4 linked regions of the Homo sapiens genome follow. The protein of the gene in region 4 purifies or fractionates together with the protein of the main gene of each other region. This does not show direct contact. Each region holds a gene or a part of one and is shown on either strand. Other genes may lie near its edges.

Region 1 (3,500 bases), about 35 Mb from region 4:
AGGGGACACCATTATGCAGTTTTAATCTTAAATTTAAAATTTCACATTTTTCTTTTTCTCATTGCAAATATTTTGCAATATTATGGAGCATATAGGCATTGTAAACTGAGCTTGGATCCCAACCATGATATGACATTGTATGTGTCCTCAGTTTGTGGTAGAGAAGATTTGTCGTGATCTACTTACCCAACGGCTCCCCTCTTTGAGCCCTATCCCTATCTTCTTGGGTCTAGGAGGAAGACAACCTATTGGCAAAGTAAGCTAATAGAATCTTTGTTCTTGGAACTTGGAATTGAGACCCTTGTGGGTCAGGGTCATTTGAGGAAAAGGAGGCATGTGGGGGCTGAGGCAGTCAGGTTTGGGCCACATACAAGGAGAAGCTGTAAGAAAGGACAAGAGGGATGGGGAAGGGAGAGAGTGGGAAGACAGGAAGAGGAGCAGGAGAAAGACAAAGAGAGACTCATACATGGTGCTTTGGTGCCTGATAGAATTCTACTTCCTGGCACTCCTGTGACCCTTTTTTTTTTTTAAAAAAAGAAACAACTTTATTAAATTTTACTCAAAATTAAAACCACAAAAGTGAAGATGAATGTGCAAACACGTAATAAATGCGGAAATGGTTAGGCAGGAGAAAAAAGATTAAGTTCACAAAAAGTTATTGAACTGTGTCTGTGGCTGCCAGGCAATCTTCATCATAGATCTCTAGTCTCTTCCTTACACAGTGGAGTGTGGCAAGCAAACTGCCCATGTGGCCAAGATTTGTGGTTCTTGTGTTGTACAGACATAGCCATTTGCCTCTACCTACCAGACAGGATTTAGGAAAACACTATAAACTCCCTTAAACTGCTCTTAGGCCAAACATGGCAGAAGAAACCTGGCACACTGATTTTGAGCCACAAGAGAAAGAGGCTGCACAATAGCCTTACACATCCAGTTAATACTGGGCACTTCACTCATACCATGTACATCCTGAACACAGAGGACTTCTGATTTGAAAGACTAACGGATATAACCCATTTGCAGGTAACAGGCTGTTCAGCAGCTGTGAGAGAAAACACTGGCAAAGATACGTGTCCAAGAAGGTGACAAAGCAGAAAAAAATAGTGAGGGAAGAACAAATCATCCTTGGTATCAGGGTACTATTATTTCCTCACACTAAGTCTCCTTTTTGCTAAGTCAGCTTGAATGGGTTTCTGCTACTTGCAGCACAAACTGCATTGACTATGACCATTCTGCTCATTCTAGACTAATGACTTTAAAACTACAGCTCAGCTAGGTCAAGGATCCATCGTGGAAGATGAAGTACAGTAGGTGGTGCAAGAGTTGCTAAGGAGAATTAGGACACTGTCCTAGACCCTCAGGAATTTACAAACCAGCTTGAAAGACAGCCCAGAAACAGCCAACTGTATCTAAGACAATGTGACTGAAATGTAATTATATTGTGAATGCAACAGAGAAAAGACAAATGTGTCAGTTCTAGGAATGCAATTCACTTATATGTTTGGGACTTCCTATAATATTAGGCCTGCATGCTTTGAACATATGATCCTTTATACTATAGTTATTTTACTTTCATTTCCAATCCTTTAATTTTTCCTCACATATACAGCCTCAGATGCAGAATTGTTCACCAAATCAGTTAAGTGGGCTGAGGTCATTAAGGCAGGTATATTAGATGCCATGGGAGACACAAGAGTACGTGCATTTGTATTTGGAAAAAAAAATATATATATATATATTATGCCTGCTGTTTTTAATGTAGCAGCTGACATTTGAAACCCAAGAACAGATTTCAAAAAGGAAAACCAAAGTGTCACCTTCTTCTTATCAGTTAAAAAGGGCTATACTATGTTTGTGGATGAAGTTACTTGATAAAATTTTTTATTACCTTTCCTTTTTGTGTGTGTGTGTGTGTGTGACGGAGTTTCGCTCTTGTTGCCCAGGCTGGAGCGCAATGGTGAGATCTCGGCTCACTGCAACCTCCACCCCCCAGGTTCAAGCGATTCTCCCACCTCAGCCTCGCAAGTAACTGGGATTACAGGCATGCACCACCACGCCTGGCTAATTTTTTGTATTTTTAGTAGAGACGGGGTTTCTCCATGTTGGACAGGCTGATCTTGAACTCCCAACCTCAGGTGATCTGGCTGCCTCGGCCTCCCAAAGTGCTGGGATTACAGGCGTGAGCCACCGCGCCCAGCCTATATTACCTTTCTTCAGCATTAATAAATAAAAATGTAATAGATAAGTGTAAGACTCAAGTTTAATCCAACTCCTTTTTCATCTTTCAGGTATACAGAATGTAAGCTTTGCTAGGATCATAAAGAATCAGAAATGTGGATGATTTTACCCCAGAAAACCATGTTGAATATTGACTATATTATTTTTAAAAAAGAGAAGAGCCTATAGCTGTCACCCCTAACAGATTGTCTTGTTGCCGTTCCTGCCAACTTCTGAGGGAAGAAATATTTCCATTCTGTTCCAATTTTCAACACAAATAAGGAAGTAATATGGCTGATTTCCGTTCTGGTGACTCAATATTAAGTTGGCTGAGGAAACTGATGTTTGCAGAAATAGTTCTGGGAAAATGCAAAGCAGGGAAACACATTGATGCCCAGGTGGTATTTTTTTTTTTTAAACTCCAATTATATTGGGATATTAGTGCTTCATTCTCTATAATCAAATGTGTTCTAGGCTGCATTTACAGCTCATCCACCCTTCTCTGCCTGCACTGTCACACTTGGAAAACGGACCAGTTCCTACAGCAGGCACACAAATTGACAAAGCAGCATTCTGAATCGGCAAAGGGGAGAAAAAGCAAATGAAGAGCAGGTTGTTAGCACTACCCTACCCTTTGCAAAGAATAAACACAAAGTTGTTCTGCCTAGACTCAAGCATTATTATAGGGATCTGTAACTAAAAAAGGTTAGTGACATTCAAACAGAAATCACTATCCTGAGGGCCATTTACTCAAAAGTTTCTAATTAAAATAGCCTTTATATTACTACCTTGGAGCTATCACATACCCCATAACTAGCATTTGGTCAGTCTGAGCTCAAACTTCAACATATCTTCTGGCACCTGGAGAAACATCGTCTGTATTTATCAGAGCTTTGCTTTAAACCCAGGATTATTTCAGTTATACCCATAACTTATATCCTTTTTGCCATAGGTATATTTGCTGAATAGCTACTGGATGCAAATGACAAAAACATCAATGAAACAGGCTTAGATTTATGATCTTCCCAGGCCATTTTTCCCCCTCTATAGTCTGAAACATCTCTATTTGAAACTCAGTCTAGTTAAAACAGAACTCCTCTTACCCTCAGATCTACTTGTTCAGCTTATGAACAGCTTAGATAATAGCCAGACAATTCTTCCAGTTTTGCAGTATCAAAATTGTAAGACAATCATGGCTCAGTGGTTAGGAGAATGGGCTCTAGAGTTAAGGTGCCTGATCCTACCCCTGGGTGAAGCCATAGGCTTGCAAGGCCTTAGTTTTC
Region 2 (3,500 bases), on a different chromosome or scaffold from region 4:
AGGAGTAACTTTGACTTTTAAGTCTTATTTAAGAAATATATTTCATAAGGCTATAGCTACCATAGATAGTGATTCCTCTGATGGATCTAGGCAAAGTAAATTGAAAACCTTCTGGAAAGGATTCATCATTCTAGATGCCATTAAGAACATTCGTGATTCATGGGAGATCAAAGTATCAACATGAATAGGAGTTTGAAAGATGATTCCAGCCCTCACAGATGACTTTGAGGGATTTCAGACTTCAACGGAGGAAATAACTGCAGATATGGTGGAAACAGTAAGAGAACTAGAATTAGAAGGGGAGTCTGAAGATGTGACTCAATTCCTGCAATCTCATAAGAAAACTTTAACTAATGAGAAGTTGTTTCTTATGGACGGGAAAAGAACGTGGTTTCTTGAGATGGAATCTACTCCTGGTGAAGATGCTATGAACACTGTCAAAATGACAACAAAGGATTTAAAATATGACAGAAGCTTAATTGATAAAGCAGGGTTTGAGAGGACTGACTCCAATTTTGAAAGAAGTCATACTGTGGGTAAAATGCTATCAAATAGCATCATGTGCTATAGAGACATATTTTATGAAAGGGAGAGTCAACTAATGCAGCAAACTTCATTATTATCTTATGAAATTGCGATAGCCACCCCAACCTTCAGTAACTACTACCCTGATTGGTCAGCACCCATCAACATTGTGGCAAGACCCTCTACCAGCAAAAAGATTATGACTTGCTGAAAGCTGAGATGATCGTTAGCATTTTTTAGCAATAAATATTTTTAATTAAGGTATGTATGTTTTTTAGACAATTCTATTACACATTTTATAGACTACAGTATAGTATAAACACAGCTTTTTTTTTTTTTTTTTTTTTTTAAGAAATGGGGTCTCATGCTGTCATCCAGGCTGGAGTGCAGTGGTGCAATCATGACTCACTGCAGCCTCAAACTCCTGAGCTCAAGTGATCCAAGTAGCTGGGACTACAGGCCTGTCACATCACACCCGGCCAAAACGCATAACTTTTATATGCAATGGGAAACAAAAAAATGTGTGTGACTCACTCTATTGTGATATTCAGTTTACTGCAGTGATATGGAACTAAGCCCACAATATCCCTGCGGTATGGCTGTACAGTATAAGAATCACCTGAAGGGCTTATTAAAAACAGCTTGCTTGACCCCCTCCCTTAGAGATTCCGATTCAGTAGATCTGGGTTGGTCAAGAATTTGCATTTCTAACAAGCTCCCAGCTGAGGCTGAGGCTGCCATTCAACATACTACCAAGTAGCACTGGCATAGAGAGATCCCTGGAATAAAATTTACCTACTTGTGTGTGTGTGTATGAATGTGTGTGTGTGTGTGTGCGTGTGCATGTGCGTGTGTGTGTATACAGTCTTGCTCTGTTGCCTGGGCTGGAGTGCAGTGGCGTGATCTCGGCTCACCATAACCTCCGCCTCCCAGCTTTCAAGCGATTCTCATGCCTTAGCCTCCTGAGTAGCTGGGATTATGGGGTGCGCCACAACGCCTGGCTAGTTTTTGAATTTTCAGTAGAGACTGGATTTCACCATGTTGGCTAGGCTGGTCTTGAACTCCTGGCCTCAAGGGATCCACCTGCCTCAGCCTCCCAAAGTGCTGGGATTACAGGCATGAGCCACCATGCCCAGCCCTTACTTGTATATCACAATAGTGAGATGATTACTTTTCAACTTTCTTCTTTGTATTTTTTAGGTATTTAAATTTTTTTACAATGAATGTTCCATCTTTACCCAAACAATAAAATCTTTATTGTAAAGAAAGTTAGAAGCAAGAAACATTAACATTTTTTATAACTACAATTTGTATAAAAGCTTTCTCTGTGATCTTTAGTTTTTCTTTCTTCCTCTGAAAAGCTGAATCGTGTTTAATTAAACTCTCAAAAGTATCAAGTTTTTGTCTATAAAATGGCAAAACTGGCTATGATGAAATAAACTGATATTTGCTATTTCTAATAAAAGCATACAATATATTCTTTCTTACCAGATTCAAATAATATTTAACGCCAACATATTAGTCCAAGTCCTATCATCAGTCAGATTTATCAGAAAGGTATGAAAACCCATGCCTACTATAAGGACCAAAATAGCCTAATTCAATACTACTTTGAAAACATGGGGATGATGTTACTACGTAATTGTTTTAAGTACAATAACCACTGATCACATTTGAACTCTCAGGATACTTCAATATTTCTTTTGGACAACTATGACCTGTTTAGTAAATTACCCCCAAATACTTTAATATAGTTTTACAAATCGCCCCAATGCCAGAGACCCAGATCAAAAAGAAAATAATGGTATGGGTCAGATTCACAGAATAAGCACTAACTTTTATGCAAACTGAAAATAAAGATTTTATCTAAAAGTTATTTGGGGAAAATAAGCAGACTTTATCAAGAATTAGAGCTTGGTAAGAAGGTAACAGAAACCCATTGTGAGAAACAGGTTGACTCTGTGTAGCTTTCCATAGTAGAGTTTAGAGTTTCTTGTCATGATTACCTTATCAATGCAGTATAATAACTACTTACACAGCACTTACATTGTATTAGGTATTATAAGTAATCTACAGATGATTTAAAGTATATGGGAGGATGTGCATAGGTTATAGGCAAATACTACACCATTTTATGTAAGGGACTTGAACATTAATAGATTTTGGTATCCTCAGAGGTTCTGGAACTAATACGCCATGGATGCCAAGGGACAACTGTACTTAGAGGTAGAACGTCTCTGCTCTTCCTACATGTCCTTATTTTTAACAACTTCTGTTCTTACAAATAATCCTAAGTCAATCAATAAAACTTCAAATTCTATTAACAGCTTAAAAGCACCAAGAAATACTCTGATCATTCATTCAACTGCCAAAGAAAATGACAACCAAGTACTTTTCCTCTTTTAAACCAAAAAAAGTTTTTGGTTTAATACTAACAAAAGCTTTAATACTCATTTTAGATATTCCTCTAATACATCTATTTACAATATATCACAGAACTATATTCTGGTTATTAATAATCTCACTTCTTACCAGGGTCTGCTAATCCAGTGGTCTCTAACAGTATGTCATCAAATTTCCCCTTCTTTTGCATCAAATTCTCAATAGCTCTAAGGCCATTGTCCCTGGAGAATACCAAAACATAATTTACAGTTAATTACCTAAATATTTTGAAGTGATTATTATAAACACTTTAAAATGTATTCAACAACCCGAGACAAAAGTATCCTTAGGAATGTGAAAATTTAACTCACTTCTAACCTTCTAACAAAATGTCTGTCCCATATTTACCAGTGAGAAAACAATAGATGCATATATATAATAGGTAAAAAGAAATCATATACATAATAATACTTTATTAAAATTAAAAGCAGAGGAAACTTTATCTGACCAAGTATCTTTTTATAGCTTTATGAAATTTTTAAAAACCAACATACAAAATAATGATAAAATTTATTAACTATAGTAGTTTAATA
Region 3 (3,500 bases), on a different chromosome or scaffold from region 4:
AAAATAAATAAAAATAAAAATAAAAATAAACCAAATGAATGAAGTTTCCCTCCAAGTTTGTCATCTTCATCTTAGGAAATAGCTTAAAGTTTAATAAAGTTTACACATGCCAATTTTGTGAATATCAAATTCAACACTTTGGAAACACAAGCTTCTAAATAAACTGTTTCACTGTGACAGTGTCCTTGAGAATACATGCCATCCAGAGGTAATTCTGCTTTATACTCAGATTCTTTCCATACTTCCAAAAAAGGATCAATATTAGACCTGTACAACAAATTACACTCTTTTACAGAAAACAATAAAATATCCAAGTCTCTCACCAAATTTTCAAAAAAGAGGAAAAGTGTAAGCTTCCAGATGAAAGTTTCTATAGCTTTCCCCAAATTTAGTACCACCATGAAAAACAAATTCTTCACTCATTCAAGGCATACGACTAGAAAACTAATTTCCATGGCATCAAATTAATTTCCTCCTTTGGAGATAAAACCATGAGATCTTTTCCAAAGCATTAAAATCGCCAAGAAAAAAAAAAAAAGAAAAAAAAGACCATTACCAGCATTTTAAAACTGAGTAAGAGAATGAAGTAAACAAAAAAGGGAAAGAAAAAGCTTCAAAAGTTCATTTTTCTCCTAATTTCTTGAACTCTCTATTCCAGAAGTACCTAATGTTTTTCTTAAAAGAGAGGCTTTCAATTTTTCCCTATGTCTAAAGGCTGCTTTAAGTAGCCTAAGACCAAGGACAGGAGAGTGAAAATGAAGAGGGTTTTGGCTCTCCAAGGTGGGGGTGGAATTGCAGCTACTGCTTAGGGATATTTTCCAGTGGTCATCTCTTCAAACTCCAGTGAGTCTCACAAACAGGGTGCACCAGCCAATCCAAGTATCCAGTATCTACAATGCAAACTGTAGATACTATCCAAATTGACAGTAGATAGCTCAGTAAATAGCTGAGCAAACTGCAATGATAGCTCAGTCTTGAACTCTGGAAATAAATTTCCAAAAGCCTTCCCCAGTGGCACTTCAAACTCAAAAACGCTTACAAAACTAATCACATTTTCCAAACCTGCTTCCACCACTACCCGACCTGTTGCTCCTCCTTCCTGTATTTCCTATACCTCGGAGATTAGCCTCACATTGAATCTACCTCCCAAGAGGCATGTTGCTTTTAAAATCCTTCACTAACTCCTTGCTCCCTACAGAAGAAAATCCAAACTATGTATCATGGCATTCAAGACCCTTTGTGGTAAGTTCTCTATCTCTTCAGTCATACCACTTTTTCTGTGCTACATAATACCAAGTTTTCTAGCCATTCTAAAAAATTCAAAGGTCCCTGGAATACAAAATCTTCCTTATACCTGGAAAGTTATCCCTACCCTACTCCATCTGTAAAAGCCTTATTCATTCTTTAAGACTCAGGTCAATGACTGTCTTCTCGGTCAATATTTTCCTGACTCTTTTTCAAGAAAAGTTGAGCAATCATTCCCTCTATTTTCCTATTATTATAGAACTCTGTGCTTTTAAAATTCTTGTATTAATATTAATATCTATTATGTTGCCTTTTTGTTTGTTTGCTTCTGTTTCCCCCCAATGACTGATCTCCTTAAAGGCAGAGTTTTTGCCTTATCCATTGCTTATATAGTCCTTAAAATGCTATGAAATGCATAGTAGGCAGTTTGTCAAATTAATTTAACTTATTATTGACCAGCTGTGTTTTGGTTTTCCTCTGTTCAGTCCACTTACATTTCTAAAAATTAAGAAAAAGTCTAGAGAAGATTAAAATGACACATCTTCTAACCTTTTACTCCTACTTCTGAAATCTATGTGGTTCACTAGTACTTCCATTTGCTACTAAATCAACTTAAGTCTTACCACTAAGACGATGCTACACACTATTCCTTTTCCTTACTCTTAACTACTCAAGGTGAGCCTTTTTCTACACATGCTTATAGCAGTTTATTGTCAGTACTTGTCAGCTACAAAATGGTAAAAAAATTTTAAACAAAAAATAAAACAAAACTTCTATAAGAGTGACTTTGACTATTTTGTTAACCAAATCTCCGGTTTTGTTTTTTTTTTTTTTTTTTTTTTTGAGACAGAGTCTCGCTCTGTCACCCAGGCTGGAGTGCAGTGGTGCGATCTCAGCTCACTGCAAGCTCCGCCTCCCGGGTTCACGCCATTCTCCTGCCTCAGCCTCCTGAGTAGCTGGGACTACAGGCGCCCACCACCAGGCTCAGCTAATTTTTTGTATTTTCAGTAGAGACGGGGTTTCACAGTGTTAGCCAGGATGGTCTCCATCTCCTGACCTCGTGATCCACCCACCTTGGCCTCCCAAAGTGCTGGGATTACAGGCGTGAGCCACCGCGCCCAGCCCAAATCTCCAGTTTCTAAACTGGTAAGCTCAAGTTGCTATGCCTCAAGGAATTTGAGAGAATATTTAATGTAAGATTCAGGACCCAATAGTAAGAATTGTACTCAGGACATCTGATCTTCATTGAAAAGGATTCTAATGCAACTTCAGTCCTCATAGCAAGGAAGTACTATTTCAGAAAGTCCCTAGATTCTCAGATGCACTGGCAAGCACCATACACTGAATAATTCACAGAAGATTTTAGTCACTTGCTCACTCATCCACTTGAAGTAAGAAAAATCAATCACTGCATGTTTATTGTTCTATAATAAAGCAAATGTTAGAAATAAAAGTTAGAAATGTCAAACACACTAAATTGTTACATAATAAACTAATCAAGACACAACTTTTATTCAGGACATGGATATTTCTGAAATGAAAACAAAAGAAGAGAATTGACTTAAAATGTTTATAAATACGAATATTATGACAGAACCAAAGCTATTTATGAGCATTATTTTTAAAAGCTTGTTTAAGTATTATGCACTTGTCTGTGTGACATTTTGTAAAGCGGAGAAAAATTAAGGAGAAAGGAATTGTAGAACACTAACAGGAAGAGGACAGATACTGAGGAATGGCTCATAGTATAAGTGAGATTATCAGAGACTTTCTACAATGGAATTTGAAATGCAGGGAGCACATTTGGTGTATGGTTGTAGAGGACTTACACTAAGGGCATTCTTCTGCTACCTCTGCCAGCAGATGAGTGGCTCCTGAGAATGCATACCAAATTAATTCCCCAGCTGTTCACATGCATATAAGCAGCTGCTGCTGTTACTGCCTAACACTTATGGCAGTCTGGCAGCACCTCTAATCTCTGCCATAGCAGACAAGCCACTCACCTAAGGCCTCTGCTGTACTTCCAAAGAAAGAATTTCTCCAGTAGAGACTGAGTGGAACTAGACTGCCAGCTGTGAGCCTCAGAGCTCCTGGCTGCCTGTTGCTGAGTCTATTAGCTGCTGAGCCTTTCTCACCAAAAAAAAAAAAAAAAAAAAAAAAATGAGCTTAATAAAATAACCCTGCACAGAAATTTTCTGAAATTAAGATAACATTCAATGGAAAACAGAATTTAATCTACAGAAATACACTTCACA
Region 4 (4,219 bases):
ATCATCTGTCTTCTCACACCACACAATTGGGAGTCTCAAGGGACCTTAGAGGACTTGAGCACATTTCACCTCTTGAAATTAAAGATGAGCAGCTTCCTTTCGTTTAAAGATAAGTCACATGAGAATTTAATTTTGGCAGTTAAAGAATTGGTTCCCCAACCTAAATCTACAGACAAGATGAATTTTCTGATTCATCTCCTTTCCTACAGTTTCTGGATTTTGTTTATCCTCCGATTCCAAATGGCATAATTGCTAGTTCTTTCTCCCACTCTACGTCCATCACCAGGTGGGTGTTTCAGCCTTTTTCTATCCCTCACATAGGACGCTCCAAAGGAAAAGAGAGGTGCTGTTTCCGGGGGGAAAGAACGTAGGATAGTTGAAAACAGCACGGTATTTTATTCACAAACTTGATTTTAAGATGACTGAAAAATCTAATGTGAAATAAACATTTTAAGAAATACAGTATTTGCTCTATTACTGTGTTGTCTACTTTGCCTCACATTTAATCTATTACAACTATAGAGTTAAGACAACTGTGATTCCTAAGCTTAATTCACATGATTGATCAAAACCAAGCTTAATTCTGTTTTAATGTTGTGTATTGCTGGAAGTAACACAAAGCATTAATAAACAAAAGGAATTCGATACCCATTTTGGGTAAATAGTATTTCTGCCTTCATTCTAACATAGATTTCATTTTGGCTTTTAAAAAACAGCTGCTGTGCTATATACCGCCGTATCCAGTAGTTGTTAAATACCTGGGCAACGTTACCTTTCTAGGGCTTGTTTCCTCATACATAAAACCTATTGGTACCCCGGGCCAGCTCTCCTATTGCTTCCTGATCGGGGACGATCTAAAAATCTAATTTAACAAATATCTGGTGTCCAGTGTAAAATAGCATGCTTGATGTCTTATTAGCACAAGACATAGAAGAGCAGGAAATTCACATAAGGAAACGGACCAGCTGTGAGTAGTTCCCAGTGGATATAACCTCTCCTTTGTTGGCCTTTAAATAATAAGTGCATCAGCTGCCGCACCTGCGATGCATGCACGCGTGGAAATCCTGCAAATTCTTAAACTGCCATCCCAAGGCGGAAAATGCAGAATTCCATTTTATTTTAACTTTTAAAGGAGTTAAATTCGGGCTTGGTACTGGGGTCCTCTCGGGGAGGTTTCCCTTACCTCTCCCAATGACGCTACTTAACCTCACCAGCACTCCAACACTGCCCACACTTGCCTACCCAGTTCTAGGTGAACGGTCCCACTGGGCACGGACCAATGGGCTCGTTCCTTCCCAGCGGCAGGGTGGGACCTCCAGCCTGGGCTTCGGAGACCCGCCCCCCGTACGTGGCGTGCGGGCATTGCGCTACGCGGCGCGGGCCGGTTTCTACAGCGCGTGGCGCCCCCCGGCGGCAGCCGGGCTTCAATGCCACGGCCTGACCGGAGTGTCCGCCATGGAGTCGCAGAAAGAGGCACGAACACTCCAGGAGCCCGTTGCGCGGCCTTCTGGGGCCTCAAGCTCTCAGACGCCGAACGACAAGGAGCGGCGGGAGGGCGGCGCAGTGCCGGCGGCGGCTGCCCTGGGCGCAGAGGCGGACGACGACAGTGCGGACGGGCTGTGGGAGCTGCCGGTGGAGCCGGCCGAGCGGAGGCCTGAGTGCACCCGCTGCAGGTGACCGCGGGGCTGGGGGCGGGGACTGCAGCCGGCAGCGGCCTTCGGAGGAGGGTGCGGCGCCCCCTGCCGGGGAGTCGGCGGCTCGGGCAGCTCTGCGATTAGGGCGGCGGAGTTGGCGGGTGCACGTTGGAAATCTCGGAAATGCCAGGCACAGCTACCTAGTAAGAAGCCCTTTTTCCAGGTTCATGATTATCTAACCTTACTTCCTGCAATATGCTGAGCGTATCATGGGATGAGCAGACATCAGTTCTGTTTCCAAGAAACTTAAGCGTCCAATAGGGGAAGTAAGGGGTGATGACAGTAATACTTGTAAAATAGTTACACAGTCATATTTAAGTGGCATAGTTATATCACAGTTAAAAAGCATAAAGTGGATTGGAGGAGAGAGACAGTCTCCTTTACCTATCCTACCAGAACTCTAAATATAGGGCCTTTTCAGGTGTTCATTCTAGGTTCTCTTCAAACCCTACATACGTCCCACTGGTAATTTATAAAATCAGTTTTCATGGTAAATTATCATCTATATCCCAGTGTGTCTAGCTCAGACCTTTCTTCGGAACACCAGACCTGTGCATTAATTTATCAGGTGTTTATTGAGTGCTTTGGTAATCACTGACAATGCAGTGGAGTTCATGTTTTTGTAGAGTATTCTCTTACTGGATACGGATAATAAACCAGCAAACAAGCAATCAAATATGTAATTACAAACTGGGAAAAAAGCAGTGAAGGAAAGGAATGGGTTGCTACTGTAGAAAATAGCTCAATGGTGTCATGAACTATCTCTGAGATTTGAAAGATGAGAAGAATCCAGCCAGGGGAAAAGCATTCCAAGAAGGGGAACAGAAGGACTGAATATGGTTGAAGATCTTTACTGCTTGAATACTTGGAGTATCACACTTTGGACATTTTGACCTTTTCCTAGGGCTGGATTGTAAGACTTCAGAGGAAAGGATCTTGAATGTAGAATGTTTTTATATTTTCTAAATGTACTATGTATAGTTGACGCTCAGTAAACCTCTGAGGAGGATGGAAAATTTGTGATTAGAAGGGACTGTGAATTTGAACATAGGGGTTTGTGAATACAATTAATTTAAACAAGTCGTCTGAGGGGGTTGGGGAAGCATTTAAAAATGTTTGGAGGGGTCTCAATAGGATACTGGAGGAAAAGTGTTTCAAATATAAATCAAAGGCTAAATTACTGTGCTAGTTTTATTTAGTTTTTAGTCTGTTCAGAATTGTTAATTATAAATATATAGGTAAAAATCTGTTTAGCAGAGATTTATTTTATGATGCTTTTTTAAAAAAATGGCTTGCTGAATTTAATCTTTTTTTCAGTTACGTTTAGTTAATACCTTAGGATTACAATTTTCCCCAACATTTCTGCACTTTGCTTATTTCTGGTGAAATTTGCTACCTGTGAAAAGCTCTCCTCCCTCTTGCTATGCATTTTATTTGCTTTAATTAGGTAGACTATAATTCTACACTTTGCTTATTTCTTGTGAAATTTGCTACCTGTGAAAAGCTCTCCTCCCTCTTGCTATGCATTTTATTTGCTTTAACTAGGTAGAATATAATTCTAGAATTATGGAGAATATTTAGGTGTTGTCAATAAAATATAAATGAATTGATGGCTTTTTATATTTTATTTCATTATGCTATTAGAGTTCTACTAGTACCCTGGGTGAACTTCTTTACATTTATGGTTAAAATAGTTTTAAAAATGCATTCTTAGATTTGATTGATCATTGAGTCACAGTTATTTGGCTATTTACTTAAACTGTATTCATTTCTCTGAACACATTACTACAAATGTCACAGCCTAGGGGAGTTCCAGAAATTAGCTTTGTTCAGGAAGTGCAAACTCAGTTTAACTTTTCAGCAGAATCTTGCTCATTATAAATATAACATATCTTAAATATGAATGGAATATTCTTTAAAAGATCCCAAACTTGTAATTTATTATTGCAAGATATAGATTCTATAAATGTATTCTGTCCTTTATGTATGTCTTGTTTACAAAACCTGCCTGTATTCCATTTACCTCTTAGAATACCTTTCCTATCCCCCATTCCCAAACGTATATAATTTTTTTTTTCAGATAAAGACAAAACCTTGGCTGATCTCCCCAGAGTATGTATCATTAGCATTATTTGAGATAACATAAGAAGGCTGAGGGTCATGGGACATGGTAGGTGCACAAAAGATTTGTTGAACTACTTGGTAAAATTCAGTTGTTCAACAAATATTTTTGGAGACCCTTCTTCCAGACGGTGTGATAGGCTATGAAATACAAAGATGAAAAAGAGATGACTTCAGTTCTCCTGAATATCAGGATCTAGTGGAAAGTGGCATATCTATTTAAATGGGGAGCCCTCAGATTAAAAATCCTATGATGTAGGGCAGTTTTTTCAAATTATAGGTAATGAACCGCATCAAATTTTTGAAGCTCTGAAGAAAACAGCAAAAAGTGTTTTCTGAACTTTTCAAAGTAAAAGTATTTGTAAAATAACTTTGTTCAAGTTAAAATCATCTTGCTAATTTAA

The links.
Region 1: the proteins of DTWD2 (region 4) and MFAP3 purify together in Homo sapiens (affinity purification with mass spectrometry; 3 studies listed by BioGRID and IntAct, with this or other methods). This does not show direct contact.
Region 2: the proteins of DTWD2 (region 4) and ZNG1F purify together in Homo sapiens (affinity purification with mass spectrometry; one large-scale study listed by BioGRID and IntAct). This does not show direct contact.
Region 3: the proteins of DTWD2 (region 4) and ZNG1A purify together in Homo sapiens (affinity purification with mass spectrometry; 3 studies listed by BioGRID and IntAct, with this or other methods). This does not show direct contact.

The regions. Positions count from the first base shown.
Region 1 is NC_000005.10:154,041,967-154,045,466, reverse strand, and holds part of MFAP3 (microfibril-associated glycoprotein 3 isoform 1 precursor), read right to left. Parts: intron 1-3,500. UniProt on the Homo sapiens protein: Component of the elastin-associated microfibrils.
Region 2 is NC_000009.12:41,179,318-41,182,817, forward strand, and holds part of ZNG1F (zinc-regulated GTPase metalloprotein activator 1F), read right to left. Parts: intron 3,150-3,500; coding exon 3,058-3,149; intron 1-3,057. UniProt on the Homo sapiens protein: Zinc chaperone that directly transfers zinc cofactor to target metalloproteins, thereby activating them.
Region 3 is NC_000009.12:148,057-151,556, forward strand, and holds part of ZNG1A (zinc-regulated GTPase metalloprotein activator 1A), read right to left. Parts: intron 3,372-3,500; exon of another isoform or gene 3,249-3,371; intron 2,670-3,248; coding exon of another isoform or gene 2,651-2,669; exon of another isoform or gene 1-2,650. UniProt on the Homo sapiens protein: Zinc chaperone that directly transfers zinc cofactor to target metalloproteins, thereby activating them.
Region 4 is NC_000005.10:118,985,748-118,989,966, reverse strand, and holds the start of DTWD2 (tRNA-uridine aminocarboxypropyltransferase 2), read left to right. Parts: upstream 1-1,419; 5' UTR 1,420-1,455; coding exon 1,456-1,673; intron 1,674-1,746; exon of another isoform or gene 1,747-1,817; coding exon of another isoform or gene 1,818-1,837; intron 1,838-4,219.